Homo sapiens: one gene and its partner. The protein of the gene in region 1 purifies or fractionates together with the protein of each later gene. This does not show direct contact. Each region holds a gene or a part of one and is shown on either strand. Other genes may lie near its edges. The genes, in order: POU2F2 and CYRIB.

Region 1 (3,818 bases):
CCTGCCTTGGTCCCTTGCCTGGGAAGAGGGCGAGGAGGCCAGTGGTGGGGACGCAGAGGGTCCTCAGAGCAGGAGTGACAAGGGAGGAAAGACCAAAAAAACAACCAACCAAAAAAAAAAAAAAAAAGGAAAGAAACTAACCAACAAAAGAGAAAACCAAAAATAATCACAACAGAAACCAGCTGCCCCAAAGGAACCAGAGGTGAAAAACAAACAAAAAAAAACCAAAAACAAACCAAAAAAAAAAAAAACCCACAAAATCAAACAAACCAAAAAACCAGTCGCGAGCCAGACCTCAGCGTGCTCACCCTCACTGCTACGACGCCAAATAAAAACCCCAGCCAGGGGCGGAGAAGCCTCCAGCAGGTCAGACCTCATGCCACCGAGCCCTGGCTGTGGGACCAACCCCCAACCCTGCCTCCCCCGTGGGGGCTACAGAAGGAAAAAGAGAAGATGCCAGCTTCCTAATCCCAGCCCCCAGCCCTGGGCCAGCGAAGACAGGGCACAGCCTGGGCAGATGGGCTGGGGCTTAGCACCACCCACCAAATGTTCTTTTCCAGAAGGTGAAAGAGAAAGGGCCTGAACAACCTTACACCAAATATTCAGTAGCTTCATCCAAAGGATGTACAGAATTTTTAGCATTGTGCTCAACAGAATGTGTCCCTACCATGTGTCCCCTTCTCCCCTGGCCCCCAGCTCTCCCCACCTGGGCAGGGGGTCTTGCTTTAACCTCCTCCCTCCCCCCAGCAGGGGAGAGTTCAAGGGAAGGCCTGCGGACAACTTTTCATCCCCTGTTCCTCCCTCTTTTCCCCTTTGAAGGGTGGGCTAGGCCATTTTGCCAAGTTCTAGCTCTCACAAGTCCCTCCTCAACCCTGTCACCCTCCTCTGCTCTGGAACTGACTCCCTCCCCAGCCTATGGGAAGGTGGAAATTTCAGGCAAGAGGGGATGAAGACATTCAGTTGAGGGCATTCAGTTGTCTTTTTCCATCCTGTCTGTTTCCCTGAAAAAAAAAAAAATTCATATTCCAGTGCCTATCCGTGGGATCCTTCACGTTCTTTGACATTAACCAGAAACCAAAAAGAGAACTCACCTCGCTTTTCCCACCCTGTGCCCCTCTGGTACTGGCGAATGCCTCTCCCTCCCCCCACATGCACGCACGCACACACCCCAGTGGTGGGGTTCCTCGAGATGGCATCCCCATCAGGGTCCATGTGGTGGGGACAGTGCCACAGCCTGTGGTCCCCATCTGAGAGGGCGCGGTGGTGGCCACCACTCCCACAAGACCTCCACAACTCTTGGCTGGACCCTGTGTTTGACCAGCCCCGGACACGTCTCCACTGACGACGGACAGAGGAGAGACACCACTGGGAGCCACCCTGCCCTCCTGCTATTGTGGAGGCCAACAAAGTTTTGAACCGAAAACCAAAAAAACAGAAACAAACAAACAATAAATTTAAACTAGAAAAAAAATTTATATATATATATAAACATATATATATATATATATATAAAAGGGAAAGAAGATGAGGACTCTTCAAGAATAAGATGGAACCGCGAGGCGGAGCCAAGCCCCTGCACCGGTGGTCCAGGCCCTTGTTCCCCAAGGCGGATGGAAGGACGGATGCTTCTTTCTCTTCACAAATACCTCATGGACGTTGTCTTTGGGAAAGCCGGAGGGGGCGGCTGGGGCAGGGCCTGTCCCTCGGCCAGGGCAGATGGAAGCGGGTGGGCGGGGCTGAGAGAGGGTATCAGGGACAGGGGTGAAGAGCCCCAAACTCCCCTCCCAAATCAACTGAAAAAGCTTTAAAAAAAGACAGGAAAAAAAGGAGTAAGAAAGCAAAAAGAACAGATGAAGGAAAACTTAACAACTTTTGGGTGGTTTGATTCCTCCTTTGATTTCTTTTTCGGTTCTCTTTTGTCTGACCTCTCTCCTCCCCTCCTTCCTCTCTCCTCCCCTCCTTCCTCTCTCCTCTCCTCCTTCCTGTCTCCTCTCTCTCCCTTTGCTCTCCTCTCTTCTCTCTCAATCTTGTTCTTTCTGTGTCTCTCCTCAAACCAAAGTGTTGCAGTGAAGGACACGAGCCATTGAAATCAGGGTGGGGCCTGACAGCCGTAGTGTGGCCCCTGCCCCTTGTTGGGCAGGAGCAGAGAGAGAGGAGAGCCCTGAGACCGCAGGGCTTTGGCCTGGGCAGCTTCCACTTTCTGCCGGACACTCTGAGGAGAGGCAGATGGAGCTCCAGGCCTCAGCGTTCTCTTTTTTCCTTGTCTCCCTTCTCCCACCCGGGAAATGAAACTGTTGGGCTGGGCGACGGAGGCAGCAGAGACTCGGCCATTGCAGGGGCCTCTGGGTGCCTTGTCCGGGCAGTGGTGAAGTAGCCGCCCCTCCCACCCCGGCACGATGGGGCCTGGCACCTCGTCTACCCAACCTCACCGGAATGTAAGCATCTCCGCTGAACGACTCCCTGCCCTTACCCTACCTCTGAGTTTGTCCATGTTTATTTCCTGAAGAGAGAAGGGACTGGCAAGAGGGCTTGGGCCCCAGCCCAAGGGTGGAGAGGGGGCCAAGGGCTCCTGACCAAATAGGAAGGACATTTGAGCAGAGCAAAATGAAAGGAATTACAACCAAAAACCCCCTCCGAGAAGACAGGCAGCATGGAAGGCATGGTGGAGATGACTCAAACAAAAACTATGATTCTAGACCAAAAAGGAAAAAAAAAAAAAAAAAAGGAAAGAAAATCCAGGACTCACCACCACCCACTTCATCCTGCTTCCTCCCCATCAAGTCCCACCACCTGGGACCTCTCCCCACCCCAGTATGTGGGAGTGGGGTAAAGAGGAGAGGAGGAGCAGGGGGCAGGGATGGGGCAGATGCCCTGATGTTGGTGGAGGGACCCCTGTGCAGCCGGGGGTGCTGGGGACCCTCCCCATCCAACCCTCACACCTAGGAAAAGAAAAACAAGAAAAAAAAATTCCTGGGAGGGGGAAAAATAACCAAATCCCAAGCTTTAACTACAGCTGTGAAACCAAATATTGGGAAGGGGGTAGGAGGGAGGGAGGGGCAGGTGAGCCCCAGGTCTCCCCCTGGGCCCCCCTCCCCTGAGGACTCGAGATAAGGCACCAAATACCTCATAGAACTTTAATGTTAAAAAAAGGAAACCAAATATCGTTGGCTGGGGGCCAGCCAGGGCAAGGGGCTGGGGGGCTGGAGGGAGCCAGGGTTGGGAAGGTGATGGGGGAATTCATGCCCCCCACCCCCATCTGCCCCTTACACTCTGGTCCCCCGTCTCGACTCCGGGAAACAAAACTATCTCATCGTTTTTATTTTGTGGTCTGTACAGAGCCTGTGTCCGTGTGTCTGTGTATGAGCGAGAGAGTTGGAGGGCTGGGGAGCTTTATGTGGGGGATGGGGAGGGCAACCCCAGGCTAGGCTATGGGCTAGGTTAGATGTCCGAGGTTGGGGGCCAAGGGCCTGGGCTAGAAAGAGAGGAGAGATGAGTGGGTTGGAGCAGTGGGGAGCCCTCTGAATTTCTCTTCTCCCCAACCCTGACCTCCTACTTAAGGGAGGGACAGAGACTGGGTCTACCCTAATGGTGGGCCTTTTCATTGTGCCAAAAAAAAAAAAAAAAAAATTGATGCCAGTAACTAAACCACCTCTCTCTGTTCTCTTCTGGGGGGTGGGGTGGGTGTGTGTGTGGGGGTGGGTAGGGATGGGGAACCCAAGCCCCAGTAGGAGTTGGGGCTGAGATCAGGAGGAGGGGAAGGATATGAGTTTTCCATCCATCTCCCTGGAGAAGGCCATGACGGGCTCTCCAAGCCCTGG
Region 2 (3,552 bases), on another chromosome or scaffold:
TGCAAAAGCTCTCCTCTCATCTGCCACCAAGTGAGATGTGCCTTTCACCTTCTCCCATGATTGTGAGGCCTCCCCAGCCACATGGAACTGTAAGTCAATTAAACCTCTCTTTCATAAATTGCCCAGTATTGGGGTATTTATTAGTAGTGTGCAAATGGACTAATACACTGGCTAAGTCCATGCCTACCCCCCATAATACTTCACTCCAAGGACAGACATGAGAACTACAGATAGAGTTGGCAGAGAAGATGCCTGCTTGCTCTCTTTGGCTATCTGACTGGCAAGTACTAGCTCTGAGGTTGAATCATCTTTTGGCAGCAGAGCTGTCTCCTTTGATCACACTGCAGCCCTCAGCTTCAATCACACTAGGTTCTCAGATAAACCTACTCTTGGATCTAGTGGAAGGAGAGGAAAATTCTTTCTGGAAAGGGCCAGATAGTAAATATATTTTAGCTTTTGAGGGCCATATGGTCTTTGTCACAACTCAATTCTGCTGCTGTCATGCAAAAGTCTCGATAAATAATGTGTCAACAAATGAGTGAGGCTTAGGTTCCAATAAAATTTTATTTATGAACACTAAAATTTGAATTTCATATGCTTTTCTCATGCCACAAAATATTATTCTTTTGATTGTATTCAACCTTTTTAAAAACCATTTTTAGCTCACAAGCTGTACAAAAACAGACGGTGAGTAAATTGGCCCACAGACCGGTTTGCTAGCCCCTGGGCTTAAGAGATCTGTCCACTTACTCCTCAACATGCAGAGTGTGAACTGTGTGAACTGCATAGGCCACAGCAATCTTACTGCATCCATTCCCGCTGCATCATTATTTTTGATTTGTATTCATTCAGTCCACCGAAGCATTCACTTGGCACCTCTCCAAATCTGGGTACTGTGCAAGATCCTTCCTTGGGACACTGAAGGAAAATCAGACACGGCCCTTCTCTCAAGTTCGCAGACTCTCCGGTATCCAGATACTACGGCTCTCATAGTATCAGAAAACACAGCCACAAGCGCAGGTAAGTATCAGAGGTGTTTTACGAGATACATGTATCAGATTCTTAAGGCTGCTGTACCAAAATACCACAAACTGCATGGCTTAAAACAACAGAAATTTATTCCCTCACAATCCTGGAGGCCAGATGTCTGAAATCAAGATATTGGTAGGGTTGGTTCCTTCTCGAGACTCTGAGGGAGAATCTGTGACATGCCTGTTTTCCTAGCTTCTAGTGACTTCCTCCAATTCTTAGGGTTCTTTGGCTCATAGATGCATTGCTCTAATCTCTGCCTCCATCTTCCCATGGCCTTCAGCTCTGTGTGTCTATTTCCCCTTCTTTTCTAAGAGCTAGTCATTGAATTTAGGGCCCACCCTACTACAGGTTGATCTCATTTCCAGGTCCTTGATTTCATCTGCAAAAACTTTTTCCAAATAATGTCACACGTGGAGATTCCCAGTGAATGTATCTCCTGGGGGCCACTATTCAGCCTATTACACTATTCTTAGAAGATGCCTAGAAGGATATGGCCAATGTTATCCAGAAGGCTTCATGAAGGAGGTAATAGAAGCTAACCCTTCAAAGATGAAAGTTGGCGTTCATTAGAGGGTCACAAGGGGAGGAAGGGAATGTCAGGTTCAGGGACCAGCCAGACCAGAGCTAAGGAAGTGACATCACATGGAACAATTTGTGAACAGCAAGCAGTAGGGCCTGGCTGCAGGACAGGGTGTGAAGTGGGGGAGCAGTGATCAGGAGGGCCAGAGAGATCAGCAGGGATGTGATCTTGAGAAGCTGTGTGTGCCATGATCTGGCCCTATTAATCCAGAAGGGTCTGATGGAAGCCTCTGTGATTCTCTTCCATGGTTAAACATTTTAATTGTATTATACCTCGGATATTCCTAAATATTTAAAACACTGGCATGGTTGAACTAGACAACCTTTAAGTAGTTTGTTCCAACCATGAGATTTAGATTTCATGATTTAGGTTTTATGATCTTAAACTGAAACCTGTTAGTTTTCTACCACTAGTGAGATCATGGCCTCTGCTTTTCTCCTGGGAAGTCCCTCTTATAATCACTCTCTTCCCATGATTAAAGGGCTACTCTGCCTTCATGTTGCTACCCGCTCCCCTGGAAATGGAGAATCAAGCAAGGATGCGGTTTTCCTTCCATTACTACATCCATACAAGAGTAAATCAAGAATAAAAGTCCAGTTAATGAAAAGATCACTGGTCTTAATATACTTAGCAAAATTTTAAAGGCAATTAAAAGTATATACATAGACAATGATCAAAATTCTAATGAAAAGACCCGGCTCTCCCCTAAAAGAAGAAAAAATCATGTAATGTATATATGCATTCCATAAAAACATACATGGGGAAAACTTCAGAAGCCTAAAAACAAAACATCAGTAAACCAAGCCACACTTAGAAAAATGAAAGCTGATTTTTATTTTATCATCAACAGCCATTCTTTAGACATGAACATGCATACGTAATATTCTACGCACACATCACAGCTTTTAACGTTAGTTAATAAAGGTTAAACACACAACATACATCCTTACAAAAAAAGTCAAAATGCAAACTTAAAACTTTAAACAAAAGTATTACTAATTTAAAAAAAGTTTGTGTTGGGTACCATTTGTACAACACAGTTAATTTAAACATTTTCATTTTGGTTGCACATGAAAAAGGCGGCAGTAGAAAATAAAGTCATTGAGGGTTTTTAAATAGCAGAATAGGCAGTTTTGCCATGCAGGAGAAGCAATATTAAATATTAGTTTCAAAAAAAATCCACATTTAAAAATATTTAGTTCAAGTCACAGAATTTTTCTCAGTAGAGACCCCAATGCAATGCATAATTAGCTGCCTTAGATGGCCCGTTTGAAAGGATGATATCCCTTCAGAGTGTAACTTTACTGATTTTGGCACAGAAAAGAAGTCTTAAGAACATGATTAAAAAAGAGGGAAGAGGAACAGAGGAAAGAAATAAAAGCAAGAATAAATGAGATAGTAATTGCAATCACTAAAAAACTGCATTCTCAGTCATTGCAGAATACTGTCTTCTGTCTACAGCAGGTGCTTATTCCAGAATTGTTATTGCAGCATGGATTTAATTTGCTTGGAGGTAGTCTCATCATTCAAATGTTTTGTTGTGTACCTAAAAAAAGAAAAGAAAAAAGATCAATTTTAGGAACTTAAAAAATAATCAGCATCGGGTTCTCTAATTATGACAGGATGGAGAATTGGTCTCAGCAAAACTCACAAAATTATGGCTTCTCATTGTAGCTTTAACCCTGTTCAGGTTCTGCACAGCCTGTCATCCTCACCCCCTTTCTAACTGAATAGCCAGTAGCTATTTAGCAGCTATTTAACTTAGTTACAACTACACTGCTGAAATGATTGGTTGACCTCTCAAGTAAACAATTAGCTGTAACTTCTCCCTCAGAAGAAAATGCTGTTCTATCCCAGAGGCTGGCAAATTATAGCCCATGGGCCATCCAATCCACCAATTTTTTTGTGGACTGTGAGCTAATTCTATTTTTTAACCTTTT

The links.
Region 2: the proteins of POU2F2 (region 1) and CYRIB purify together in Homo sapiens (affinity purification with mass spectrometry; one large-scale study listed by BioGRID and IntAct). This does not show direct contact.

Annotation. Positions count from the first base shown.
Region 1 is NC_000019.10:42,087,404-42,091,221, reverse strand, and holds part of POU2F2 (POU domain, class 2, transcription factor 2), read left to right. Parts: 3' UTR 1-3,818. UniProt on the Homo sapiens protein: Transcription factor that specifically binds to the octamer motif (5'-ATTTGCAT-3'). Regulates IL6 expression in B cells with POU2AF1. Regulates transcription in a number of tissues in addition to activating immunoglobulin gene expression.
Region 2 is NC_000008.11:129,839,048-129,842,599, forward strand, and holds the end of CYRIB (CYFIP-related Rac1 interactor B), read right to left. Parts: intron 3,159-3,552; coding exon 3,095-3,158; 3' UTR 546-3,094; downstream 1-545. UniProt on the Homo sapiens protein: Negatively regulates RAC1 signaling and RAC1-driven cytoskeletal remodeling. Regulates chemotaxis, cell migration and epithelial polarization by controlling the polarity, plasticity, duration and extent of protrusions.